4 linked regions of the Homo sapiens genome follow. The protein of the gene in region 3 interacts with the protein of the main gene of each other region in a pairwise test. Each region holds a gene or a part of one and is shown on either strand. Other genes may lie near its edges.

Evidence for each region.
Region 1: the proteins of ITM2B (region 3) and COX5B interact in binary tests that used the Homo sapiens proteins (3 or more experiments, as listed by UniProt).
Region 2: the proteins of ITM2B (region 3) and BACE1 interact in binary tests that used the Homo sapiens proteins (3 or more experiments, as listed by UniProt).
Region 4: the proteins of ITM2B (region 3) and RAB3C interact in binary tests that used the Homo sapiens proteins (3 or more experiments, as listed by UniProt).

Annotation. Positions count from the first base shown.
Region 1 is NC_000002.12:97,641,601-97,648,903, forward strand, and holds COX5B (cytochrome c oxidase subunit 5B, mitochondrial precursor), read left to right. Parts: upstream 1-4,461; 5' UTR 4,462-4,486; coding exon 4,487-4,589; intron 4,590-5,466; coding exon 5,467-5,540; intron 5,541-5,743; coding exon 5,744-5,843; intron 5,844-6,395; coding exon 6,396-6,508; 3' UTR 6,509-6,783; downstream 6,784-7,303. UniProt on the Homo sapiens protein: Component of the cytochrome c oxidase, the last enzyme in the mitochondrial electron transport chain which drives oxidative phosphorylation.
Region 2 is NC_000011.10:117,306,233-117,313,257, reverse strand, and holds part of BACE1 (beta-secretase 1 isoform A preproprotein), read left to right. Parts: intron 1-7,025. UniProt on the Homo sapiens protein: Responsible for the proteolytic processing of the amyloid precursor protein (APP).
Region 3 is NC_000013.11:48,228,647-48,236,218, forward strand, and holds the start of ITM2B (integral membrane protein 2B), read left to right. Parts: upstream 1-4,559; 5' UTR 4,560-4,714; coding exon 4,715-4,831; intron 4,832-7,572. UniProt on the Homo sapiens protein: Plays a regulatory role in the processing of the amyloid-beta A4 precursor protein (APP) and acts as an inhibitor of the amyloid-beta peptide aggregation and fibrils deposition. Plays a role in the induction of neurite outgrowth.
Region 4 is NC_000005.10:58,852,071-58,859,095, forward strand, and holds part of RAB3C (ras-related protein Rab-3C), read left to right. Parts: 3' UTR 1-7,025.

The sequences.
Region 1 (7,303 bases), on a different chromosome or scaffold from region 3:
TATTCTCTGAGATTTCCACAGTCTAGCAAATTCCAAATGCCTCTATAAATAATAAGCCTTGCTTTTTGGAGGCCAATGTATTATAGGATCCTTAAATCCCCTCCCTTATTAGGTTTCTGCAGTACAGAGGACCAATGAAAGGATTTACCCTTCCACCATTGTTTACATCAACTCAATTTCTAATCTCTGTAAATAGCCCTCTACAAACACCCTCTAGTTGTGGTTAGTGCTGGTTTATCTTGTCATTTATTTATTTATTTATTTATTTATTTATTTATTTATTTAGAGAGGGAGTCACCCTCTGTCATCCAGGCTGGAGTGCAATGGCATGATCTCGGCTCACCACAACCTCTGCCTCCCAGGTTCAAGGGATTCTCCTGTCTCAGCCTCCCGAGTTGTTCAGATTACAGGCATGTGCCACCAGGCCCGGCTGATTTTGTATTTTTAGTAGAGGCAGAGTTTCACCATGTTGGCCAGGCTGGTCTCAGACTCCTGACCTCCAGTGATCTGCCCGCCTTGGCCTCCCAAAGTGCTGGAATCACAGGTGTGAGCCACCATGCCTGGCTTTTGTCATTGATTATTAAACAACACCCACGTGGCAAATTCATGTTTGATTTTTTGGGGCCCCAAGTCTACTTTCATTTCTGCTCCCACATCTGATAGTATTTTTATATGATATTTGAATACATCATTCCATTCTTTGATAATTTCTGCCCTTTCTTCACTGAAATCTAGGATCTGCTACCATCTCACCTGGCTCATCGACATGTAAATCCCTTCAGTACTGATCAATTTCTACCAGTCTTTAGATTTGAAGACCAAAATGCTAATGACCATGATGGATGGTTTTGGAAAAAGACAAGTAGAGCCTCAATGTCTGGCACCTATGGCTGATTTAATTTTAAACTCAGGGAAATGAAATAGGTACTGTGCATAAAAAATATTCAGGTGATTTTATTTAAAGCATTTTTACTAAATTCAAACTAATCAAAAAAACCTTTATTTAAATGACAACTTATTTCAATAATTTTTAAATTTTCATTTTTAATCAATATATAAAAATTGCACATATGTATGACATACGATATAATATTTTGATACATGTATAAATTGTGCATTGATCAAATTAGGGTTTGACAACCTCAGGCTTCATAATTTATGAAATAGACCTCTGCCATTTAAAAACTTTATATCTAAACTTACCAACTAGTAATTAACTGAACATATCAAATAAGATATTATTTAAAAGAGCCTAAATTAATAAAATGTTTAAATACATTTTGAGCTTTAAAATACAATAAATAAATATGACTTATTTTAGAAAAATTTTTTTAAAAAATAGACAAAGGTGGATATAGACAAAAACATGTACAGAAAAATATCAAAAGGACTAAACCCCTTGGAGATTTTAATGGTAAAAGCTTGCTGATATTATTTTTAAAATTATCAACTTTTAAAAAAACATTTTATGGCCATTTGTTAATGAGCATAAGCTTCTACTGAAAATGAAATATTTGCTTCTATAAGAATATACTCTCAGATATTGTATGAGAATATACTGCAGCATTGTATGAGAGGCAAAAAACTAGAAGCCTTTGGAATATTCATCATGGGAGAATGGCTGGGCACATTAACGTACATTCACAGTAGGGAATATTCTGCAGCCATCACGTAAGTTAAGATCTAGATGTATTGATCTGAAGGGACATCTACAAAATATATATATTTTTTGAGCCGGAGTCTTGCTCTGTCGCCCAGGCTGGAGTGCAATGATGTGATCTTGGCTCACTGCAACCTCTGCCTCCCGGGTGCAAGTGATTCTCCTGCCTCGGTCTCCCACGTAGCTGGGATTACAGGCGCCCACCACCGCTCCCAGCTAATTTTTGTATTTTTAGTAGAGACAGGGTTTCGCCATGTCGGCCAAGCTGGTTTTGAACTCCTGACCTCAGGTGATCTGCCTGCCTCAGCCTCCCAAAGTGCTAGGATTACAGGTGTGAGCCACCGCACCCAGCCTACAAAATATTTTTTAATGAAAGAAGCAACTAACTAAAACTTTGTATAGTAGTTATGTTTTTATATTTTATATTCATATATGCAGTGATGCTCAATGGGAATTTTGCAAATCCAGGGGGCATGTGGCAATGGCTGAAGATATTTTTGGTTATCATGTCAGGGAGGTGCTAATGACATAGGGTTAAATCCTACAATGCACAACCTCCCTCAAAGAATTATCAACCCAAGATGTCAGTTGTGCTGAGCTTGAGAAACTCTGTCATAGGGAAAGGAAAAAAAGGATAAGCACCAAACTGCTAGCTTGTTCCTTATATATCTGTGCTGTTCAACTTATAATGTACATTTATTTTGACAACTGAAAATTATCCTATAAAAATAAGTTTATTGTGCTGGCAAAGACAATGATAGAGCAGAGGTGGCAGACTGTTCCCCAAGCCAACTGTTTCCAAAGGAGACCTGAGGGACTGGGTGTGAGTTGACAGTGGTGGGAGCTGGAAGCAGCAAGGGATGCGGGGACATCTGGGGAGCCTGGACCTGACCTTGGAGCTCACTCACACAATCTAAATAATCCCAGAGTGAGGCTGAGGTTTTCCTGAGTTGGATGAGGGCCTGCGAAAATTTCCTATTATTAGGCAAGCCTACTATGAGAGTGAGAAGCCTAAACTCAATTTCCATTTTATAGCCTGGAGTAAACCACTTCTGGTCAGGCAGCAGGGAATCATAACATATCAGAGCTGAATACCTCACTGGTTTGCTGAGGGGCAAGTTAGTAGGTGTTCCTCAGAAAGGATTTTGTGGTCAATTAAGACAGGGAAACTCTGGCTTAAACTGCAGGTAAATTAAATAAGAGGTCTTTACTGCAAGCCTAATCAGAGCCTTTATTATGCTAGTGTCCATCTCCAAAAGGGTGGTCATCAAATGCAGGCCCTCCCTGTCTTGACCAAGTCCTTTTTCTTGAGATCATGTCTTGAGACTTGGATGCCATGCAATACACTTTGGGAAATACTAACCTAGTTGAACGACAGTTTTACTGATGTAGAAATGGCGGCCCAAAGGATAAAAAGTAGCTGAACTAGCTGGTGGGGCTACTTTCCAGACCAATGCTTTTTTCTCCTGCCTAAGACCTTAACCACAGTTGCAAATTAACTACAGATCCTCAGAATTTTCGCCCAATTCAACTTGGAGGGGTTGCAGTGGAGGTGAGGGAGAAGGGAGTAACAGTGAAGCCATTCAAAGCAAAAACCACCTTTAAAGAAATTTTGGCCTTAGAATACAGGGTTTTTTTTTTTTTTTTTTTAATTGGTGGAGGGGGCACCCAGGAAGACCAGACGTGCTCCTGTGAAGCAACGCTCCACCACGTCCTTTTGAAAATACCGTAGCCTGCATGAGACAGGCGGGAGCACCTAAGCCTTCAACTCTCCCCATGTTGCCTCCAATTGACCTCACTGGGCCAGGAAAAGCCCTATAAACTGGTTTTGTATACTCTATCCAAGTAGTAAATTTACTAAAATTACTGGATCCTACTATATACCAGACCTCTGCAAGGCATTGAAGATTCAATGATGAGCATTAATTCCCACTCTAAGGGGATTTTTCTATCTGGTAGGGAAACTCAGATACCGCATGCAGCTAGCCTGTCACAGGGCTATACTGACTAAAGCTCACCCTAAGAAATTTGCACATCTTAGCCTATGGGCAACGGGAAGCCATGGACGGAATATGTTTTCCGTTTCAAACAAGGAACTCCAGTCACAGCAGGCTCTAACTCCATTTCCTATTATCAACTCCCCTTCCTGCTCCTCCTCCCTTAGTAGCCTCGAAAAAGAGTGGCCACTTCCTTCACATCACCAGGGCCTTGGTCCTGGTAGGGGGTCCCGCCCCCGGCCCTGTCCTCCTCCCCAGGCCGGGACCTCCGCGCCTCCCACACACAGTACAACTCTAACACGAAACTGGGCCAGGACTGCAGGTAGGTCCCGTCCAATGCGACACGCTCGCGACGGCCCACGCACTGCCAGAACCAGCCCTGCCACTAACCAGCCTAGTAAGGAACGCAGTGATCTTTAGGAGCCCACTTCTAAATTCAAATCATTTGGGGTTCAGTAAGTCTCTTCACAGACGGGGACCTAATAGCTTCCATTAGCAGCCTCCACGTTTGCTGAACACGACTACGGGGCCAGACCCACAGGAACTCCAATGTGGTTCAGCCGCTCAACTCCAGGGACCAAAAAGACTTTCCCACCTCCCAGCGTTATTAAAGGCAACCCCGCCCCCAAGCCTCAGCCACTACGCGGTGCAGAAAGAGGCAGAGCTGGGCATGCGCAATTTCCGCCCCCGCCACAGTCTTGGGAGTGGGCGGGCTCGAGGGCTGGGAGGAAGCCGAAAGCTGACCGAGAGGAGAAAGAAGCCCGCCCCCGGAAGTCCCTCCTGTCTCTGCAGCTTGTTCCCGGAAGTTTTGCTGCTAGTCGCGGACGCAATGGCTTCAAGGTTACTTCGCGGAGCTGGAACGCTGGCCGCGCAGGCCCTGAGGGCTCGCGGCCCCAGTGGCGCGGCCGCGATGCGCTCCATGGCATCTGGAGGTACTCGGGTCTCCGGGCGTGCCAGGGACCAGAGTGTTGCCCTCCCAGGGTGGTCCCAGGGCGGCAAAGCGGCGCGGCTCGTGCAGCTTCTCGAGGTCCCAGTGGCCGCTTTACGGTCCCCAGTGCCTCAGGCTCTGCAGGCATCTCCCTGTAATTCTGGACCGCTGCTCCTGCCGCTCCCCGAACTCACTCCGCTGCGAAAGTATCCTAAACGGAGGTGCCGGGTGACCTTGGGAGGGACCGGGGCTGCCACCGGGATGGGGAGGGGTCCGGCCTCCCTTCAAACCTGCGCCCACCTCAAGCAGAGTGGGTTCTACATGCTTTTAGACAAATGTCGACAAATTTGCCTCGGTGGTTGGAGAAAGAAAAGCTCATAGGCCGGGCGCGGTGGCTCACAACTGTAATCCCAGCACTTTGGGAGGCCGAGGCGGACAGATCCCCTGAGGTCAGGAGCTCAAGACCAGCCTGGCCAACATGGTAAAACCCCGTTTCTACTAAAAATACAAAAATTAGCCGGGCGTGGTGGCGCGCGCCTGTAGTCCCAGCTACTCGGGAGGCTGAGGCAGGAGAATCGCTTAAACCCGGGAGGCGGAGGTTCCCGTGAGCCAACATCGCGCCATTGCACTCCAGCCTGGGCAACAAGAGCAAAACTCCGTCTCAAAAAAGAAAAAAAAAGCTCCCCCGAGTGCTGCCGCTTGTGTGGATGGGTACTTGGTGGTTCTTAGGGGACCATGGATATGAGTAGCCTTTAGGAGCTTGTGAGCCCGCTAAAACTTATACAGAAGTTTCGGGGCACCATTTTCCTTGATCATTTCTGTTTGTAGTTTTTCTATCAGTCATTTCAGTCAGCGTCATAATTCACGTTATCTTCCTTTAGGTGGTGTTCCCACTGATGAAGAGCAGGCGACTGGGTTGGAGAGGGAGATCATGCTGGCTGCAAAGAAGGGACTGGTAAGGAGAAACTCCCTTCTGTGTCTTCTGTGTAACTTATGGCCTTGGATGTGTTCATAGTGGTCTCCTCTCTGGGAGTATTTGATACAGGAAACTTGGCTTGTAGGAACAGTCCCCTGAGCTTCTGGAAGGTAGGGCTTATTTGGCCTAATGGTTCAATTCTTGTTTTTTTTGTTTTGTTTTGTTTTTTGTTTTTTCTTCAGGACCCATACAATGTACTGGCCCCAAAGGGAGCTTCAGGCACCAGGGAAGACCCTAATTTAGTCCCCTCCATCTCCAACAAGAGAATAGTAGGCTGCATCTGTAAGTACCTCACCTCTATTTTTTATCCACTTGCTTAATATATCCTACAATAGTGTGTAAGCTGCCTCAAATCTTCAGTGTGTGAGTGCATGTTGGTAAGTTTGTCTAAGGGTCTTGACACTCTCAAGCCTCATTATGCCTGATAGTTCATCCTTACTGGAAAGAAGCGCAGCACAGCGGTAAGACTGGCTCACTGGGAGTGCGGCATGAAGGAGTACCCACCCAGCAAATATTTATTGTTATACTGCTTCTATGCCAGGCATCATTTTAGACACTAGGGATACATACCAGAACGGACCCTGCTTTGCGTTCTACATAGGCAAGGGAATTGTTAGAATTTACAGTGACCTTGATACAAGGTCAGTTTACTCATAGGTGAACTCAGAGCCTCAATTTCTTCATCTGAAGAATGGGAGGAGGGCTTGAACTGATCTCTTAAGATATCAACCATAGTCTTACTTGTGTATCAGAGATGTCTGAGGAAAAGAAATTCATGTTGAAAGTCTCCCTTTCTAGGTTGGATGACCATAAACCACCTTTTTTCCCTTTTAGGTGAAGAGGACAATACCAGCGTCGTCTGGTTTTGGCTGCACAAAGGCGAGGCCCAGCGATGCCCCCGCTGTGGAGCCCATTACAAGCTGGTGCCCCAGCAGCTGGCACACTGAGCACCTGCACTAAATTACTCAAAATGTGCTGTAAAGTTTCTTCTTTCCAGTAAAGACTAGCCATTGCATTGGCTCCTTCTCCCATAGATGGCTGGTCTTATTTCTTACCCGTATTCTTTGGTAGGCATGGAATATGCTTATTTTGGGAAAAGCTGTCTGTTAATGCTAGCTTGCCATCCACTTACTGAAAGTGTATAACCAGTGTATAGTGCTTAGATTAATAATAAGAATAGATCGACAACCCGTAATGCAATGAATGGGACCACCTGGTATGAGAGAAAGGGGCGGGCTGAGGAGTCAGGCTGACAGGACTTAAAATATTGGCTCCATCATTTGGCTCTATCTCTGTGGACATGTTCTCTGGGGGTCAAGTACAACTACAAAAAGGTAAGTACCTTACAAGGTGCTTAATATGTAAAGAGCTGAGTGGATAGTAGGTCCTCACAGTATCCTCATAGAGACAGGGTGGCCTTGTGAAGAGAGTTTTGGGGATTTTGAAGTCTTGAGGGACCCAGGTGCAAAGTAAGAATTCATGGGGATACCAGCAGCAAAATTCAGAATATGGAACAATTTCAGAAATCACTGACCATGTTTCTTCAAATAAATTGCAAGGAGTGGGGGGAAAAGCTAGGGAGAACATGTGGAGAAACAGATAAGGGAGATACCAGTCAGCAGCATGCACACCTTGTTTAGATCTTGATTTGAAAACAATTATAAAGGAAAAAAAATTGAGAAGAATTTGAACTCTGGATATTTGATATGTAGACATTTACCACCCTTTCAGGTATTTATATA
Region 2 (7,025 bases), on a different chromosome or scaffold from region 3:
AGGGAGCCCACAACTAAAGCAACTGTGTGGCTTGCACTATGATTTCTAACTAAGCCTGCATCAGCCAGTCTCTGCTCTCTGGTGGCTTGGACTCTCTCCCCATCTGTCTGTAAGAAGGACGCCCTTTCTTCCTACCTGGCGCGGCTGTTGTAAGTGCCAAATGAGAACTTGGATGGCATTGTATTCTGAACAAGAAAAAGTAAAATTTGGGGAGCACTTTCTCTGTGCTAGGCAATTAATTGGTGGTGCCTGGGGGCTGATCCACAAAGAGACAAGAAGACATGTTTTCTGCCCACATAGAGTTACAGTGGAAGTGAAAGGGCGGAAGTGACGAGTACAAGGTCATCCATGCAGATATACTCAAAGCGAGGTCGGCAAACCCTCATTGGAGTCAGCTAAAAATGTAAATTCCCTGGCCCCATCCCTGACCTCTAGAGACAGGATCTCTGACAGTGGGGCCCCGTAGTTTGTGCCTCAAATTTGAGAACCATTTATGGCTGGACGCGGTGGCTCACGCCTGTAATCCCAACACTTTGGGAGGCTGAGGCCGGCGGATCACCTGAGGTCAGGAGTTCGCGACCAGCCTGGCCAACGTGGTGAAACCCCATCTCTACGAAAAATGCAAAAATTATCTGGGCATGGTGGCAGGCGCCTATAATCCCAGCTACTCGGGAGGCTGAGGTAGGAGAATTGCTTGAACCCAGGAGACAGAGGTTGCAGTGAGCCGAGATCACGCCATTGCACTCCAGCCTGGGTGACAGAGCGAGACTCCGTCTCAAAAAAAAAAAGAAAAGAGAATAATGTATTTATAGGAGTGCAGAGAGTGAGTGCCACAGGTGTTCAGAAAGTGATAAACTCATCCAGGAAAGCCGCACCAGGGACATGTGCTCTGAGCATGGTCTTGAAGGATGGACAGGAGTGGCAGGCTATTCCCAGGGGGCAGATGGCACCATACTATCCCACTGTACTGTAATTGCACGTTACACGTATGTCCATGTCTGCTCCTTCCCACCCTACCCCCTTAAAATTGGGAGAGTCCACAGTGAATGAGAGGATGAGTTATGGATGTTAGGGCTTAAGCATGGTTGTTTAGGAGACAATAGAGAGCCAGTCCTGTTAATATTACAGGTTTAGGCTAAGACCAGATAAGTTTGGGTAAATAAAATAGAGCCAAATAGCCATAAAGCTTAAATGTGAGACTATAAGGTTTGGACTTTGGCCTTCAGATATAAGGGAAAATCTGAATTTATTGGGGCAGGGGAATGACATGAAGAAAGCAATCTTTCAGGAAGAGACATCTGAATTTTAAAAAGAGTGGGGGCTGTGTGTGGTGGCTCACGCCTGTAATCCCAGCACTTTGGGAGGCCAAGGCAGGTGGATCACAAGGTCAGGAGTTCGAGACCAACCTGGCCAATATGGTGAAACCCCGTCTCTACTAAAAATACAAAAATTAGCTGGGTGTGGTGGCGCGTGCCTGTAGTTCCAGCTACTCGGGAGGCAGAGGCAGAAGAATCTCTTGAACCCGGGAGGCAGAGGTTGCAGTGAGCTGAGATTGCGCCACTGCACTCCAGCCTGGGTGACAGAGCAAGACTCCGTCTCAAAAAATAAATAAAAATAAAAAGAGTAGGACTGAAAGACACAGGCACAGGGGGCTGTCACAACAGTCCAGGTGTGAGGCCCTCTATGACAAGGAGGGCATGAGGCTGCAATAAGATGGAAAGAGAAAGGAAGGGCAGGATGCAGAGAACGTGCCAGGGCAGGTGGGAAGGATTTGGTGACATTGGTGTGAAGGGAAAGGAAGAGGGCATCAAAGATGGTTTTGAGATTCTGATCTGGGGTGAACTGGAGGATAACAAGACTGTGGGAATAGGAAAGGTGGCAGGAGGGGATGGCTTATAGTACTTGTATACAAATTTATTTGCTTGTTTATTAATTACAGGGTCTCTCTCTGTTGCCCAGGCTGGAGTACAGGGGCACAATCGTAACTCCTGGGCTCAAGTGATCCTCCTGCCTCAGGCTCCTGAGTAACTTGGATTACAGGCACATGCCACCAGCCCCAGCTGATTTTTTCAAATTGTCTCACTATGTTGCCCAGGCTGGTCTCCAACTTCTGGGCTCAAGTGATACTTCCACCTTAGCCTCCTATTAGTTTTTCCCTTACAGCAATTCCTGCAATATATAAAAGGTCTTTACTTCAGTGAGCTGTGATTGCACCACTGCAATCTCCAGCTTGTCAGAGGATGACAGAGACCCTGTCTCCAAAAAAGAAAAAAAAAAAAAAAGGTCTTTATCACTCACAGTGTCTAGCAGAAGAAATGGGGTTGAAAGGTTAAACCACTGGCCAGGTAGAAGGCCAGTAAGTTAAGACCTGTTTCATCCTTGTTCTTCCTACTGTGCCATTTGTCTTGGGGAAGAAGAAGTTATCACAAGCATCCCTCTTCCATTCTCCCATTACACCTGCTTATATCTCCATTACTACACTTGTAATGTATTACAACTGTTTTTGTGTTTGTTTCTCTCATAAAACTTCAAGCTCTGGCCAGGCGCAGTGGCTCACGCCTGTAATCCCAGCACTTTGGGAGGCTGAGGCAGGAGGATCATCTGAGGCCAGGAGTTCAAGACCAGCCTGACCAATATGGTGAAACCCTGTCTCTACTAAAAATACAAAAATTAGCCAGGCGTGGTGGCAGGCGCTTGTAATCCCAGCTGCTCGGGAGGCTGAGACAGGAGAATTGCTTGAACCCAGGAGGCAGAGGTTGCAGTGAGCTGAGATTGCACCACTGCACTCCAGAGCGAGACTCTGTCTCAAACAAACAAAACTTCAAGCTCTTAAGGACAATGTCTTTTTAATTTTATTTATTTATTTTGCAGTATCCTCTCTTTGTGTTATAATAATCTATAACAATACCAAGCTCAGAACATACACCTAAAAAACATTGAGTGAATGAATACATAAGCTGCAAGCCTCTAAACAGAACTGTTGACAGGCAGTTGTAAATGCAGAACTGTAGCTCTTAGAGAAAGTATTTTTATTCTTTTAAACGAAAGGGCCAGGTTCAGCAGCTCACGCCTGTAATCCCAGCACTCAGGTGAGGCCGAGGCGGGTGGATCACCTGAGGCTGGGAATTGGAGACCAGCCTGCCCAACATGGTGAAACCCCATCTCTACTAAAAATTCAAAAATTAGCCAGGTGTGGTGCTGCATGCCTGTAAACCCAGCTACTCAGGAGGCTGAGGCAGGAGAATCGCTTGAGCCCGTGAGGTGGAGGTTGCAGTGAGCCGAGATTGCGCCACTGCACTCCAGCCTGGGTGACAGAGTGAGACCCTGTCTCTAAATAAATAATAAATAAATAAAAGGATGTTATCTCATTTTGATATTATGAGCATCACTGACCAAACATAGGATAATAAGGTAACTGTTAGGAGTGAAATTTGGTGATAGTCAATTCAGTTTAACAGATATTTGTTGAGTACTTGCCTACTGTGTGTAGAAGAGAAAAATAATGCCATAGTCTTAGCCCTTGGACAGCTCACAATCTGATGTGAGACATAGACATAATACCTAAATATTACACAAAACCAAATGCATTTGGTACAAATAGTGAAACAGTGGATCTTGGAAGTGCACAGAGAGAAGCAGCTACTTCTGACATGGTATTAGGCACAGCTTGCTGGAAAAGGAGGGTTTTGTTTTGTTTTTGTTTTTGAGAGGGAGTCTCGCCCAGGGATCCACCCGCCTCAGCCTCCCAAAGTGCTGGGATTATAGGCGTGAGCCACCGCGCCCAGCCAAAACGGAGGTATTTGAAAGAGGAGAAAGCTTTGCAATATGGAGAGTGGTGAGGAGGAGCACTTCATGAAGAAAAGCGTGAACTGTGGTGAGAAGCCAGAAGGCATGGTGGGGATGCCATGGGGCTGACAGGACTTTGGGTTTTATTCTGCAAACAGTAAGGAATCCTTGTAGGTATACGAGAAGAGGGATGATATCGTCTAATTTTAGTTCCAGGAAAACAGCTTCAGTGTGCAGAATAACTTGGAGAGTCTAGCATCATGACTCTAGACATGCAAACAAGGATCTCAGGATACGGGGGCCTGAAAGAGGATGGTGGCAGTGAGGGTAGAAAGGAGGAATCAGCATTCATCCATCGTTTAACCAGTTATTCTCTGCGCTTGATGAGATGTATGGGGTGAGAGAGAGGGAAGAGGAGATGATGGCTTTATTTAACCTCTCTGACTTTTTGTCAGGGAACAAAGCAACAGGGGAAAGCTTTTGAAGCACAATATAGTTTTTTTGTTTGTTTGTTTGTTTTGAGATGGAGTTTCGCTGTGTCACCCAGGCTGGAGTGCAGTGGCGCGATCTCAGCTCACTGCAACCTCCACCTCCTGGTTCAAGTGATTCTCCTGCCTCAGCTTCTCAAGTAGCTGGGATTACAGGTGCCCGCCACCACCCCCAGCTATTTTTTTTGGTATTTTTAGTAGAGATGGGGGTTTCACCATGTTGGCCAGGCTGGTTTCAAACTCCTGACCTCAAGTGACCGCCCGCCTCAGCCTCCCAAAGTCTTAGGATTACAGGTATGAGCCACCGCACCCAGCCAGGAAGTACAATATAGTTTACCAAAGTTTATGTTTATTATTCTGCTTTAATTATAAGGGATAGGTATTAGCATATCTATTTCAGGGATAAGGAAACTGAGACCCAGAGAGACTAAGTGTCTTGTCCAAAGTGATTCTGTTAAGAAGAACAGAGTAGGGGTTCAAATACCGGGGCCTTTCCTTCCTGTGTTCTACGATCTGGGACATGCCTTTGAGATGCTAGTGGGTCATCCTCGTGGAAGTATTCAGCCACCAGCTGACAGTGGGAATCTGGAGAGAAGTTAGAACTGGACAGGCAGACAGGACTCATCCACAGAGAGGCCAAGTTAAAAAATAGACTTGTTCTTTGAGGGAACAGAGAGGGAAAGGAGAAAAATGATTAGGAAAAGAATATTAGGTATAGACAAGGGAGCAAGAGAAAATGATCAGAGCAGTAGAAAACTATGAGGGCTCAGAGTCTCAGAAACCAAGAAGGACCAGGTGGTTTTTCTTTTTTTCCTCTCCTTCCCTGCTTGGCAGGGTTCTGTAAAGGGACCTCAGCGGTGAGGGAGAAGGCTGGGAGCAGTCAACACTCTAGATCCCCGCCCTTCCTGTCACCAAGCCATCCCCATCCCCCCGCCCCAAATCTCCTGAGCATCCCAGGATAACTTTGCTTTTATTGTTTTTATACAGTGGACTTCTGGGTTATATTTTTTTAAAAAAGAGTTTTTGCAATAAAAAGGTTGAAAACCATCGAGCTCAAAGAACCACCCTCCAAATTAGACAAAGCCAGCAAGACCCCGGCTCCATAAGTTGCCTACCCAGTCCCTGCCACCACAACTGGCTTTCCTGGATTGGGCCTCGGGTTGCACACAAGCCCTTGCTGGAGCACTCATCCTGTCATTCCAAACCTCTCCTCTACTCCCCAGACCAGTAAAGAAGAGTTTAGCTGGGAGTGAGGGGGCATTGAGAAAGACTGTGCTCTCTCTAAAAGCACTAAGGTGGAAGGTCAGGAACCCTTCTTGGGCCTCTCCAATAAAGGGCTGGGCAGAAAATTCCAGTTGAAAATCCAGAAAGAGGCCAGGCACAGTGGCTCACACCTGTAATCCCAGCACTTTGGGAGGCCGAGGCAGGCAGATCACCTGAGGTCAGGAGTTCAAGACCAGCATGGCCAACGTGGTGAAACCCTGTCTCTACCAAAAATACAAAAATTAGCTGGGCATGGTGGCACGTGCCTGTAATCCCAGCTAATCAGGAGGCTGAGGCAGGAGAATCGCTTGAACCCAGGAGGCGGAGGTTGCAGTGAGCCAACATCATGCCACTGCACTCCAGCCTGGGCGACAGGGGGAAGACTCCATCTCAAAAAAAGAAAATCCAGGAAGAGAAACACCTCCCAGGGAAGCCCCCATACCTAATGACTAACTTCTGTCTCTCCTGGGAGCCTTCTCTTTCAGGTGCCTGGGCAGGGGAGAGTTCTGGGAAGGAACCAGAACATTTTCTGAGTTCTGGAGCTGCCCTGAGATTCTCCTGGCAGGATGCGACAGCACCTGAGTACATCCTTAGTACCGCAGCCTTGGGTACTATAGCCAGGTGTTTCCCAAAATAGGAGAGCTGGGCTGTGCTGGGGAGAATGAGGAAATCAGCAGAACTGGGGGGATTCTGACGTGGGGGAGCTGGGACTCCTAGGTCCTTTTCCTCAAAGCAAACTGGCCAAGCTCTGCCTCCTCCCATGCCAACTTATCCTCTGTCACCATATTTCCTGAGCTGCTGTCACTCTGGGGCCACCCTCTCTGCTGCGCACTGTAGGCTGGGTGTCCTCTTGCTTGGTCTTTCAAGGTCAGTGAATCTCATCACTTAGCCTTTTTTCTTTTTTTTTCTTGAGACAGGGTCTCACTCTGTTGCCCAGGCTGGAGTGCGGTGGCGCGATCTCGGCTCCCTGCAACCTCCACCTCCTGGGTTCAAGCAATTCTCCAGCGTCGGCCTGCCAAGTAGCTAGGACTACGGGCACGCACAACCACACCCGGCTAATTTATATATATATTTTGGTAGAGACGGGGTTTCACTATGTGGCCAGAATGGTCTCAAACTCCTTGACCTCAAGTGATCCGCCCACCTCAGCCTCCCAAAGTGCTGGGACTACAGGCGTGAGTCACTGTGCCTGGCCCTACCACTTACTCTTTTCCAAGGCCTGTGGAGGTTTTGACAGGTAGGACAAGGAGTGAGTTCTAGCATCTCCCAATGGCTTGAATAAACAAGCCCATGTGCTGAGCGTGACACAGGTGCCATGGTCAGCTTCATTTTCAACTGAGGACAGAGCAAGAGAAGATTCAAGCCACTGTAACCTGTGGGTGGGACAAGGTTAAATAACAGGAAGGACTTACTGTCTGACCATGAAAAACAGGTGGCGAATAGCTGCTGTGATACCTTGTGGAGCATGGGTTTTCCAGGTGGGTTCCG
Region 3 (7,572 bases):
GATGTACCACAGTTTATCCACTCATCTACTGAAGGATATCTTGGTCGCTTTAACATTTTGGTAATAATGAATAAAGCAGCTATAAACATACATATGCAGCGTTTTTTGGTGGACATAAGTTTTCAACTCCTTGGGGTAAATACCAAGGAGCATAATTGTTGGATATTATGGTAAGAGTGTGTTTAGTTTTGTAAGAAACTGCGGCTGTACCATTTTCCATTTCCATCAGTGATGAATGAGCGTTCCTGTTGCCCAGCATCCTCATCAGTAATTGTTGTGGTCGCTGTTGCCGATTTTGGCCATTTTAATAAGTGTTCAGGGTATTTCATTGTAGTTTTAATTTGCAATTCCCTAATGATACAGGTAAAGATAGATGTGGAGTATCTTTTCATATGCTTAATTGCCATCTGTGTATGTTCTTTGGTAAGGGGTCTCTTCAGATTGTTTGCCCATTTTTTTAAAATGTGGTTATTGCAACTAGGGAACTGGATTTTTTGTTTTATTTAATTTTGATTTGTATTTATTTATTTGTTTGTTTATTTTTAGGGACTCCTGTGCTCAAGTGATCTTCCTGCTTCAGCCTCCCAAGTAGCTGGAACTATATAGCATGCACCACTACACCCTGTTAAGAAAAATAATTTTTTAAAATAGAAACGGGGTCTTGTTATATTGCCCAGGCTGGAGTGCAGTGACTATTCATAGGTACGATCATAACGCACTGCAACCTTGAACTCCTGGACTCAAGCAATCCTCTGGCCTCAGCTTCCTGAGTAGCTGGGACTATAGGCTTGTGACACTGCACTTAGCTTGGTGGCCTATTTTTTAATGAGGTGGTTTGTTTTGTTATTGTTGAGTTTAAAGAGTTATTTGTGTATTTTGGATTCAAGTCTTTCATCAGATACATGTTTTGCAAATATTTTCTCCTAGTCTGTGGCTTGTCTTCCCATCTTTTGATTTCACTCTTTCTATGGTTTGTGTTTCTCATCTTTTCCATCTTTTTCCTCCCTTTCTCTCTCTCTCTCTCTCTTTTTTTTTTTTTTTTTTTTTTTTTTTTTTTTTTTTTGAGACAGAGTTTCGCTCTTGTTGTCCAGGCTGGAGTGCAATGGCGCAATCTCGGCTCACCGAAACCTCTGCCCCCTGGATTCAAGCAATTCTCCTACCTCAGCCTTCCGAGTAGCTGGAATTACAGGCATGTGCCACCATGCCCGGCTAATTTTTTGTATTTTTGTATTTTTTTTTTCTTTTTTTTGAGACGAATTCTGGCTCTGTTGCCCAGACTGGAATGCAGTGGCGTGATCTCGGCTCACTGCAAGCTCCGCCTCCCGGGTTCACGCCATTCTCCTGCCTCAGCCTCACGAGTGGCTGGGACTACAGGCGCCCGCCACCACACCCGGCTGATTTTTTGTATTTTTTTTTTTTTTTTAGTAGAGACGGGGTTTCACCGTGTTAGCCAGGATGGTCTCGATCTCCTGACCTCGTCATCCGCCCGCCTCGGCCTCCTAAAGTGCTGGGATTGCAGGCGTGAGCCACCGCGCCCGGTCAATTTTTTGCATTTTTAGTAGAGTCGGGGTTTCTCCATTTTGGTCAGGCTGGTCTGGAACACCCGACCTCAGGTGATCTCCCTGCCTCGGCCTCCCAAAGTGCTGGGATTACAGGCATGAGCCACCTCACCCAGCTTCTCCCTCTCTTTCATCAGTGCAGAGCATATCCAGTCTTTTCACAAAGCAAAACAAAAATCCCAAGTGCCACAGCCAGTCAAATCAAAAGAGATCTGCATTTGTTATTAGGATAATTCCTAAAGGGTCTCGGGATATTATAGAGCCCAAGATTTGAAAAAGAAAAAAAAATGCATCTGCTAGTTCAAGGAAAATAATGATAAATTATTTTAAAATTACATGAAAATAATTTATATAAAATAAATTAAAATAATTGAAAAGCATATATAATATTGAAATAGGAAGTCGGTAAGAAAAATAAACAGTGCTTAAGTCTCTGAAGAGGTCAGTCAAAGCCTTCAAAGCTCTCACCTAGAAGAAACACTTCTTTTATGAAAGTTCAGACAAAGCCACAAGATGACCAGCTAAACTCACACATTGGGTTAAGAGAAGAGGCAACAGGAGCACATTTCAAAGGGCTTATTCAGTGACGTTGTTTCACCAAGGACCCTATACTTGTGAAAAATAAAATAAAATAAAGTTTTCCAATCATTCTGTAAAACCACAAGAAATTTCTCTGAATAAGGAATTGTTTCCTTGAGAAAGAACAGACAGAATAGAGATGTAAAGAACCTAAAAAGAAAAAAAAAATCCCTGTTGAAGCACATAATGCAAATCTATTAAAATATTTTAGAATTCAGTTCCCCACTTCCATTTTTTCCTCCCTCCTTTGGTAAGCATAAAAACAAACATGGTTGCTGGTGATATGCAGAGCTGGAATCAGATTCATCTTGCTCTCTCAAACTCAACGTCAAAAAGGAAAACAAAGGTCCTCTAAGACTCCCTTTACATTTGGTAGTTAATAGTAACTTATAACTATGTTTTTAACTTTCTTTTGTTGAGTCATGGACTCTCCTCCTCCCTGGCTCCTAAGTTTTCAGGGTCAACGGGCAACCTTTTCTAAATCACAAGACTGGATTTGCTATGTTTGGTCTTGCTCCAGCGTCTTTATTATCCCTGCTGTTGTGCACTACACAGTTCTGTAGACACATGAGATAAAATGGAGAAAAAAAACCAGGAGATTATTCCCAGACCGGTTGCCAACTGATTTTAAACTGTTGCTCACTGCAAGTACACAAAATAATGAATGGTCTTTTATTCATGAGTCTTTCAAAATAGAAATCCTGGGGCGGGGAGGATTTCTAGTTTTGTCAACCTCATTTGTTCATCCTTTGCCTCAGCTTCCTAGTCTGTTCAGTAGTGTTGTTCACGAAGAATTTTGTTTTATTTTCTTCTGTAATTCCTTTTTTCCCCCCGGAGTATAATGACAGCCAGATTCTTCTCTATCATCTACTGCAAAATGCCTTGAGTATTTTTCTACCATCTTATTTTAACACAGAACGAAGTAGGAAGGATGTACATATAATTATTTATAATCCTCCAGATCTTGCTTCCAGAAATACTTAGTCTTCAACTGTAATGTCTCAGGGAACCTATTAAACTAGGGAGCTGGAAGCAGTCGTTGACTTTGAGGAATTAGATAACATTAGATACTATGAAAGTCCAGTCCATAGAGTCAACCTCACAGAGCCGATGCCTGCACAAGGGCGACCCAGGAGTTTAAATAAGTTGCTGCAAGTATGGTTAGCTACTGTTAAAACTCACCAGAACTGGAACCTAACTCATCCTCCTCTTGGTTGAGCAGATTTCATTTTGACAGGAATTTCTGAATACCCAAAGCAAACTCAAAGTCTGGCCTGGGTTTCTATCTCAGCCCAGGATGCTTCTGAAATACATGAACAGAAGGATTTGGAGATCTTGGGCTGTTTCCCTGGGACTTATGATCTGACATTCTATGGAAATACCCAACTCCCTCCTTGAGCAGGGCCAAATCCCCAAAGATCTCAGACTGAACCCACTTTTTTCAGGGTTGGCCCAAGGCAGAGCTGACACAGCTGTAACATTCTAGAGCACACCCACAACTCTGGATGAACCAGGACAGAATGGGGTGGAAGGATACAAGATAACACATTTGTCCAAGGGGGCCGTCTGTTGACACAGTAATGAACGCAGTAACGACGGGAGCCAGTATTCTACCTCGCATTAGTTGTAAATGAAACGTCTTCAAAACATGAGAATTTTGCGTTATCCTTAATTATTTTTTCATTTTGCAGAAAAATAAAGGGACTCGTCATCGAGTACTTTGAGTCACAAATCAGCCAAGTGTGCATGTGGTTTTTTTCCAAGTACGCACAAGAGTGGAACATTTCGTTTTACGAGTGTGAGATGTTTGAAATACAAATCTGCCAAGAGCTTCCTCCACATTGGTCTGGGACTAGGCAGAACAGGCCCTGACCTCCTGAGAGAGGGAAGGAAGACCAGGCAGGTCTGAGCCAGGTAAACGCCCTTGGGTGAGGTCCGTGAAAGATAAAGTCAGATCTCAAGGACAGAGAGCTTTAAACATGTTTGTGCTCCACTGAGTCGGTTACCTAATAAGTGAGAAAATGAAGATGTGGATGCACAAAAATTCCATGGCCTTTAGGCTCGCGGTGGGGACAGGGTACAGGGAAGCGGCGGTCTGGTGCTGCCAAAGGTTAGTCCCTTGTACCCGGCGAACTCAGGAAAGTTCACTCGATTTCGCTACAAACCTGCAGCACTCGGCCTGGAGGTAACCTGGTTGGGAGCGAATTCAGAACTGGAAATTCCAGGCGGCCCAGAGGGACACCCATCCCTCTCCGAGGCGCGCCGGGATCCGGCGCCCAGCTGCGGGGCGAGGGCAGGGTCCCGCGCAGCACCCCACCCCCGGCCGCTGGCCCCGCCCCCGCCCCCGCCCCGCCTCCCAGGGGATGTGCGAGCAGTCTCCGCCCTCGCGCGGGAGCTGGGAGGCTGCGAGATCCCTACCGCAGTAGCCGCCTCTGCCGCCGCGGAGCTTCCCGAACCTCTTCAGCCGCCCGGAGCCGCTCCCGGAGCCCGGCCGTAGAGGCTGCAATCGCAGCCGGGAGCCCGCAGCCCGCGCCCCGAGCCCGCCGCCGCCCTTCGAGGGCGCCCCAGGCCGCGCCATGGTGAAGGTGACGTTCAACTCCGCTCTGGCCCAGAAGGAGGCCAAGAAGGACGAGCCCAAGAGCGGCGAGGAGGCGCTCATCATCCCCCCCGACGCCGTCGCGGTGGACTGCAAGGTCCGAGCCCGGGGAGGTCGAGGAAGCGGGTGCTGGGCCCGGCCGGGGAGGGCTGCGCGGACTGCAGCGGCAGTGCGCCCCGAGGTGGCGGGCGCGGGGCTCGCGCCGCGGGGACAAGTCCCCGAGAGAGCCCGGCGCTCCCGTTTCCTGTGGGTCCGCAGCTCCTTTGTAAGGAAGTGCGTGTGCTGGAAGCGGTGCCTGACGCGGGGTCGGGGGCTTGGGAGGCCTGGAGAGGGAACGATTGGCTAATTGTGCCGAATTCCCGGTCGTTTGTGCAGTCCGGGGAGCGTGCGTGCAGCCAGGACTTGGCTTGTTCGATCTGGGGACCGGCAGCGACAGGCACAACAACAACAACCGAGTTTGGCACTTCCTTCCCAGTATAAATAATGTACCTAAAATGGCTGACATCATTACAAGCCTAAACCTCTGTTGTTTCCCACTTTCGTTTCTAGGCTTGAACAGCACTTGGACTAAGTCCAGCAACTGTAAGCGTCTTAATTTTAAAAGCGTTTCTTTACCTCCTTTTTCCACGGCCCTTCGGTAGTGGCAGGTGAACTTCACCTGGAGAGGGGACGAAGGGACAGTCCGCCCGAAGTAGGTTTGGGCTGTCTCTTACCATTACTAGTAAAGGCCAGTAATGACTATGTGGATGTTAGTGAAAAACCAATTGTTGGCATTTAAATTGTATCAGCGTCTTTGTGAGGACTCCTGCTGCGTGAAACTAAACATGAGAAATTTGCCCCCGGGTCCCTAATAAAATTCTCCTTTATTTTACAAAATCTCCCTTTAATCCTAGGAAAATTCATGAAGTGGGGCTGTTACTGTGTTGACTTTTAGTAGGTTACGATCATATTTACTTAAATATGAGTGTAATTGTCTCATAAGTTAAAAAAGCCCACAGCCTCTTACCCAGACCCTTTTTAGGCTGCAAAAATTAGAAATTAACTGTAAAGTTATGTTGCTTATCTTATTTTTTGTTGTTGTTAGCATTTTTCAAGACCTATTATCAGTAGGGTAAATTTAGTTTTAACTTAAAAAAATTGGTGTGCCACGTATGAATAATGGGAGTTTTTATATGGACGAATGAAAATTATTGCTGAAAAACAGGCCACTAATATACTGTAAAAAATTCACAATATAATGGTAATCTAGACATCATATTATAATTTATTATATTCTGAATATAATCTATCTTCAGAATATAATGGTAATCTTACTTTCTGGAAATGTTCTGATAAAAACAGACACGTCAGAGGTTGATTTCTAAATGACTTGCCTTGCCTTGAAATAGGAACAGTGAACTGATTCCCTAAAAGGATTAAAGGTTTTGGTTTTCGTATTGGTATTGTTTTCCTGAAGCCATTGCAAACAATCTTGGTCTTTAAAGAAAATGTTTGGAATGCACAGATGAAAATTGCAGTAGCAAATTATTATGTTAGCTCTTTGTTTATCTAACATTCGTTGTACCTAAAATAGATTGAGAGTCAAGTATCCAGTCACAACAGTCTCAAATATATGTAGTCTTAATGCTATCACATATATATATATACACACATACATTTAAAAATCCTATTAACAAATATAACTGCTCCCATTTAGAAAGGAGAGAGTGAGCGAGCATTGGATGATGTCACTTCAGACAGCTTTTCTCTGTTCCGCTGTAGTGGAGATTTGAAACTCTGGACAAACATCAGAATTACATTTGCTGAGCACCATTAAATCTGACTTCTGACAATTTTTGTCATTTCTGAAATAGTGACTCTGCCAGATTCTCAAAATTGCTCACGAGTTCACCATATTTAAATTTTGTGGTCATTGCAGCTATAAGTAATCATTGGTAGCTCCGTGCTTTGTTTTCCATTTTTTATTTTCTCAGATCCTCCATATCCAAAGAAAAATACTACTGGGACTAAAGAGTGAGGGCCAGAGTCGTCTTTGTAAACCACCCAGCAGTCACGGATGAGTTGGTAGATAAAAAATGACTAATTCTTTTTCCAGCTATAAGCTGAAAGACTTCTTTAGGGGATGACAAAATATTTCTCTACATTAAAAGTAGAATCCTTATAATCAGTCAGTCGCTTAACGGGAAAAGGAAAACCTTAATGACAGACTTTTGTGAAAGAAGTTCTGATCTCTTCATTTCAGAGCTTGGGCAGTGATTACATAATGTTCTCTGGCTCCTTGCGGGTGGCTCTGTGGCAGCCACCTTGTCTGACTGCCTGGACTGGGAACAGAATCAGCCTTAATGTGTTTTGCCGAGGGCATTTCCTTTGCCTGGTTGGTTGAAAGAATCAAACCAAGCTAGTTAATGGCCTAGAACTCCTGAACAAGAATTTTTCTTATCTTTAACCCTCCCAGATCACAATATCCCGCAGACCATTGTTTTCCAAAATGTGCTCTTAGGGACCACCTGCTCTGGTTTTAAAATGCAGATTCTGTTACCTTATGCCACAAGAATTCTGATCACTCTAATCAGCTGGCTTATATAACATGCATTCCAGTACTTTTACATTGCTCCTGTCTTTCTATTTTTTTCTTCTGCAGGGTGAGAACTCTCCAGAAACAGTTCTATTACCCCATTTTTCAGTCTTATCTTTTCAGCAGCTATTAATCCTAACAGCCATTTCTATTGATAGTTTTATCTCAACTAGCTTGCTGTTTATTCTTTTCCTGCATTTTCCCCTTAATTGTTTTCACCTTCCTCCTCTCCTAGTAGGCATAAAGCTCTTAGAGCTATAGAG
Region 4 (7,025 bases), on a different chromosome or scaffold from region 3:
CTGCTTTTTCCACTGATCCTTCCCAATTCTGTGAATATTCAACATCATTGAACAGATTGAGACATATCTACTGAATGCCAGTTATGCAACAAGCATTTTAACCAAGAAGGGTATGAGTAGCTATGGAATTCCAAGGTCCAAGCCCCCTTATTTTTCAATGACTTGCCTTCCCCAACCCCCATAATGCACACCACCACCACCATCACTTTCTGGAACCATCACCAACTCTTGGACTAGAGCTTATGTTGAAGCTTGTTAGGGCTCCTCTTTCCGTAGGATGTAGACTTGCCTCCCCAAACACGGCCATCTTCTCAAACCTCAGCTAAGTTCTTTTACCTGTTTAGATGCTATTTAAATCAGATTTCAAAGGGTCCCCAGTTGAGAAAAAGGAAAATTTTAATCTTTAATCATCTTTTTAAGTCCAGATGTTCATAAATTCTAAAGCATATTCCTATTACGTGAATGCTTAAGTTACACAGGAAACATTCTATAACTGTAGTATTTCAATTTCAGAAATATTTAGGATCCATAGCAATTTAAAAGAGGGAGGAAACCACTGGAGCATTCTAATTTTGTATCACAAACTTCCTAAAGGACCTATATGAATAAAGAGAAAACAACAAATCCTACCAGCTGTACAGAGAGCAACAGGGAAATTTGGCCTCTGTATCACTGTCCAGCATTATTTAAAGCTAGGATTTAGGAAGGAAGCAGGAATTATTTGGCAGATTTGGAAGGATAGTTTCGTTAAGTGAACTTTCTACTTTTTTGGTGGTTATGTCAAAGAATTTTTTTCCTCTTCTCAAAAATAGAGAGGCTTCCCATGAAAGTATTGGATGCAAATGAAACAGGCATACATCTAAAGATATCTTTGGAGAATAAATCCTTACAAGTCACAGAACTAGGTCACACACATTAGTAAGTCAAAAGTTGGAAATTAGGGGAGAGAGCATTTGGAATGCTTTAAGCATTTCCATGTTATTTCTCACCTTCCTAGTTGAAGATCCACTAATCAGTAGTACATTTCTACTTTGGTGCCCTACAAAGCAAACCTTAGCATAGTAAAGACAAGAAAACATTAATGTTTTATTAGTTTTTAATGGGGCAACCAACTTCAAAATCACAGGAATTACAGTGACGGGAGAGAAAGAAGCAGGAGGCATAAAAACAGATTTGTTTGTAGCAGTAGTCTGTTTGTACAATGTTATAATATTTCTGTAACTTGGGCCAGAATGTGGCCATGTTAAATGATATAGCTATTAAGCTCACTTTTACAATCTAAAAGGAACTAATAAAGCCAGGAAACCCTTCTCATCCTCCTTCACAGCCCTCATCCCACACATAGATGTAAAAAGCTTAGAAAGAATATTCTGATGGCTTTTTCAGAAGGAAGGACCTTGATGTGTGTATTGTGGTAAAATGAAAAGCAAAATGAGACAGTATTTAAAAGTGAAAGAGCAGAGTTTTGCTCTGCTGAAAACCCCTTCCCTGAAGAACTGATTGCTGTTGAAGTTAATTGGCCCTTAGATGGGAAGCCCTAAGCCAAGCTCCCACTTACACAGTGTCAAACATCCCGAAGTGGAAACATTTTATGCCAGTCAGGGGAGAGACAGGCAACAATAGCCCAAATGTCATTGCCAAGAAACATCTGATACTTTCTAATTTCTAAACCCCAATGGAAGTGAGGCCTTTTTCATTGATTCTCAGTTCTGAAACTCCCACCCTGTTAGGATTTCCATTCCAAATAATTCAATGAGAGGTTTCCAGAGAAACAGTCACAGAGCTCAAGAGAAAGAACACTTAAATGCTCCTGCTGTAATTGCATCAAAAAATCCGGGTTTTAACATCAAATTTGGCAAATGGTGGGACCAACCCAAGGTTAACTAAGTGGGCTTTCATTGGCATTGAGCTATGTTACTTATAAATTATAACACTATAGTTCCAAGGTTTTTCAGCCTTTTGGCCAACACACACACACACACACACACACACACACACACACACTATACCATCATCTATCAATAGTCTAAATACATAAATAAATGCAGGTCATTTTTATCAATGGCCTAACTAAATTTATATTTAAAAGAACAAGACTTTTAAAAAGTACATACTCCTGTTGGTTTGTAAGTTATACACATTTATCTCTTGTCTTTGATTTAATTAAATTAGTGTTTTAAGTATGAATTTATTTTCCTTTGCTACTCATTACCTGACCACTTTCACTCCTCTAGATACCCTTAGGAATAAACCTGAACTGTTCCAAATCGATTCTTCCAAGAGCTTTGGTGTTGGTACCTTCCTTTCTTTTCCTAATGCAACTGAAAAATTAGACTGAAAATTATTTGACTTAAATAGCCATCCTCAGAGTGAATCAGCATTTCAGTTTTTGGAGATGGGGATGGAAGTAGAAGGTGCACAAAGCGTCCTAAGATGGCAGTTTGAATGTTAGCATCGCATCTACATGCTCATAAGAGGAATTGCTTCAGGACAATGAATCAGTTCATTGTTGCTGCCCCCAGTGAACAGCTCCAACTGCCTTGATGAACTTCTAATGACTGTGAAAGCTAGGAGGTTCTTCTAGTTCCTCCTTAGGGTCACTTGAAGTTCAGTATTTTTTTGCTGCCTGGTAACTAAGTGCTAAGATTTTTACTTGGAAAGAAAACTATGACAATGCCTTCAGTTGTAGCAGAAAGTTGTGGCATTGTGATAATAAACAAAATCTACAAAGTTACAACCCAAATTATACAAGACATCAAAACACTCAGTAAACAAATATATATATTTCACCTACTTAAATCTTATTCATATTAATTATAGGCCTTTTGTTTAGTACACTGGTTATTTTTTAAGGAACCAATTTAAACTTTCAATTTTAAATACATCTATGCTGACGATAGACTTTCGGGTATATACAACCTTCTTCTTCTCTTTTAAAAGTTAAATACATTCCACTATTAACTGAACTTCCATGAAGCAACATTAATTTTAGAGCATGGTAGTCCATAATCAGTGGTTCATTGTGATGTGCTTTATCCAACATGTATCTTAGTGCATGGTTGAGGATGTACTATGTGATATTTTAGTTAACAGTGTGGCATTTGTGGGACTATATTAAAAGCATATCCAAACTACCAAGCTATACCAAGCTGAGGTAGGTAACACCTGCATGTGAAAAACTGTGATATGAATCTTATTTATAAAAAAGTCATAACTAAAACCCTTCTAGACCAAAAAGTTACTGTGTGTTTGTTAATAATCTTCATAGTACTACTGGAATGCTCAATCAGTTATTTTTGGTGTGGCATACTTCAGAGCTGGCCTGTCCGTCTGAAGAACCCTTTCTCTCACAATTACAGTTTGCATGACTAGAACCCGGAACTCTGTTCCTTTGCGTGTATAGTCACTTAGTGTGCTGTCCGGGTGCCACATGAGCAACTACACCCATGTGGCCTTTCTGTCACTCCCTGGAAAATGCAACCTCTACAGCTCTGCTCAGCTCTGCCTGTGTGCATTGATTACCTTCGCTTTAGTAGTTTGCCTGTAAAATGGTGAAGTCTTTCTGATATGCTGAACCTTTGAGCCAGCTTTTGGGAGTTCTTCATATTTTAGGTGAATTTTTGACCAAAGTCAATTAAAGACATAAACCTGTTTTATATCATGGAATTTACTGGGCCAAATTAAGTAAAAGATGAAGTTTATGACCAGAATAAAAAAGCCTTTACCCCTGCACAGCACTGTATCTAAAGGGCTCTAGGTTGTAGAAATATAGTACCCCCTAACAGGGAAAAACCAAGTTGGGGGATTTATCTAAAATGTATCTACCTATTGTTACTGGTATTTCACAAATAATTTTTTTCTTAAAAATATTTACAGAAATGCTTGACACTCCGGTCAAATAATATTTCCCTTTGATAGATTGAAATATTTGCTTTTAGATTACACATACAGTGCTGCCCTTCTCAACAGTCACTCACACGCTCACTCGCCTGTACAAAGGTATCAGGCAAACACTGATACTTTTTTTTAAGAAGGCAAAATTCCATCTATGGTGCTTTCTCAGTGCTAGGGAAAAGGGAGCTTTTACTATGTTCCAGCTATAACTCACATCTTACTTATAAGGTCCATAAAATCGGTTCTTCACACTGATTTCGTTTGATTAGTCTGTGCATGTAATTAATTTCCTCCAAACAGAGAGAGTGGAGGGGAAATAAATTTTGCAAGCATTCTAGATAACAGAAATGAGTCATTTTAAAACCTCACTCAGAGCTCGAGTGTTAAGATCAGACCATCTAGCTAGTGGACAAATTGAACTTTCTATTTGCAGTTCTCTTTTACTTTCTGACTTTCTTTTAAATTACTGCAGTTTTTCAAAACACTATCCTCATGGAATGACAGGACCAAGAATAGAAAATGAGACTCAAATTTCACCATTTACTTCCCATCAGCAACCATTACTGGTGGAGTTTCAAACAGTCATTACTTGCTGAAATGAGGTTTGAGGTTACCTGTGTATTTCATTCACCTGTGTTAATATTTCCTTCATCGTGGACAAGTGAGAGTTGGCTGTGGCTTTATTTCTTGAGGCAAATTATTTTGCATTCATGTTATTTGGGGCTAGGTATTGCTTAGGTTCGTGAATGCTGTTCTTACAGACACAGATGGTACCTGAGCCCCTCAGACACCTGCCCTTTCAGGGACGTGAGCATGACTTACATCTGTCAAGTGGTTCCATACTTCTTGTAAAAGTAAAGTTTGGGTATTGTTTGCTGTATCAATATGATGGCTTTCCATGCATTGTCTCATTATCCCTAGGATACGTGCTAAAGGAAAACTGTCCTGTAATTCCTGTTAATATATTGTTAATGTCAGACGTGATGTGATACCGTTAGACTGTCCAAATGTACAACAATTTAATGGTGTTTGTAGAACTGATATGTCTTAAATGTTGCATGAAATATGTTATAAAAATAGATTTGTTTTCTATTTTCAACACCTCAGAATTGAGGGTTCATGGGCCAATAAGTGCAATATTTAATGACTCACTCAGTGTATATAAACTAGTATGAAAGAGTGAATTATAATGAATGTGTGAGATGCTTTGATAGCTGTGTGACTTATTCAAATGATTTTCTTGTAGCTGTATTTGTCTAGTGGTGCAATTTATACAGTAAATATCTTATTGGTGTCATGTAAAACCCCTCTGTGCCTACTTCAAAATACTTTTTTCTTATAAAACCAAACATTTAGTATCTGGAAATATGTGTCAATTTTATCTCTTAGAATTGTGGATTTTATTGTCAAGACAGAATGGCTGTTCATTTATTTTATAAAAGCATCTCCTTCTATAACTCAAAATTTTCTTTAAGTGTCATATAAAAGTGTACATTTTACTTTTAAGCAACTAATTTAGATACCTAAGAAAAACTATGTGCATTAGGAAAAGTCATGTTTTTCTTCTCAGAAAGGTTGATCACATGACATGTCTACTAAGAATTTTCACCTCTGTACTTGTATGTATATTTTATTGTTACTCAATCTTGTATTTTATTTACAAATTCAACACTGTCAACCCTGGGAATTCTAAAATACCAATGTATTTTTAGGTTGTAGCTAATGTTGTATTCACTTTCAATTCTCAGTTGTCCACACTGGTGATATAAGAGGAACAAATCAGAATCATTAAATACTTTGTAATGCCATCATAAACTCATATATTCATCCTCAAACTCCCTTGTTTAATGCTAATTGGTGGCCTGGAACTTCACTGAGATGCAAAATCAAGAACTGAAGCCTAGTTGCTAGATAACGAAAAGCTATAAATGTTTATGTATGTGAATTTTAAATTAGAATAACCGTCTTAAACTCCTACTTGCCATTTCTAAGGCAAAGCATTCATTTTAATATTGTACTTTGCCTTTTCATTCAGTTAGTGGAGTAAGTCATGAAACCCTTAGGAAGAAAAACAAGTTATGACTTATTCACTAAAATTGATGCAAGACAGTTGGTTCTAGATGACCATGGCCATGTGTTCATCATATAAAACCTTCAGTTCTCTCTATGGTGCTTGGCTGGAGATTGACATGTGAGGATGTGCCAATCATATTAAATGGATTTGGTCTATGTGGGTGATATGTGGCCTGAATGTAACTGTGATAGACTGAAATTTGTTCTTAGCTCTCAAAATCCACTGAAGAAGTCAAGTGAAGGTGGGTAAAATAGGGAGATTAGTGACAACTTTGTGCCAAATTTTTTAAAAAATGGAAGCAGGTAGCCAATATTAGAATGATAATTTAAGGGTGTGGTTGAATTTTAGTTAGTTGTCACATAGTTATTGAACCTCATATGCTCAGTGCTGTGGGAATCAAACATGGAAGAGGTATGGCTCCTGCCCCTAATGAGAACAAGGGGGAAAAATCCAGATATAATCTAAATGCTAGGTTATGTCAGGGTATAGGAACACAGAGAATGGGGGACCTGTAAGAACTGGAAGAGTCAGAGAGGGCTCCATTGAAGAGGTCAAACATAATTCCGGAAAGAATTAGGTAGTGAGGAGATTGTGCCAGGAAAATAAGTGGGAAAGGCCACAGTTATGTTTCCTTTGAATGGAAGAGAGACAAAGCTATCAGCTATAGATCATTGTTTTCTTAAGACAGCCAAACTGGCCCTTTGAAACCATTCAAATTACCCCAGTTTAGCTCCCTACCTTTTAGTCTCCGTGAGGAAGACAAGCTGTTGCATTATCATATTCCTCTGTGCTGAGCAGCTCAAGACTCAGCCACAATATGCAAATTGCTTTAATGCCATATTACGGCAGTTGATTTAGACATTTGCCAGTGCACCAAACCATGAGAGATTGTCCGACCTAATGCCACCTGGCAGATGTGTACCCAGAGATTTTTCTGTAGCTCCATGTTTCCCATAAAGGGCATTGGAAATGCACAGATGAAGATCTTCCTTTGGAACCAGGCACATTTGGCCCCTTCTCAGTGACTGCACTGTGGAACTCTTCTTAAGAAAATATT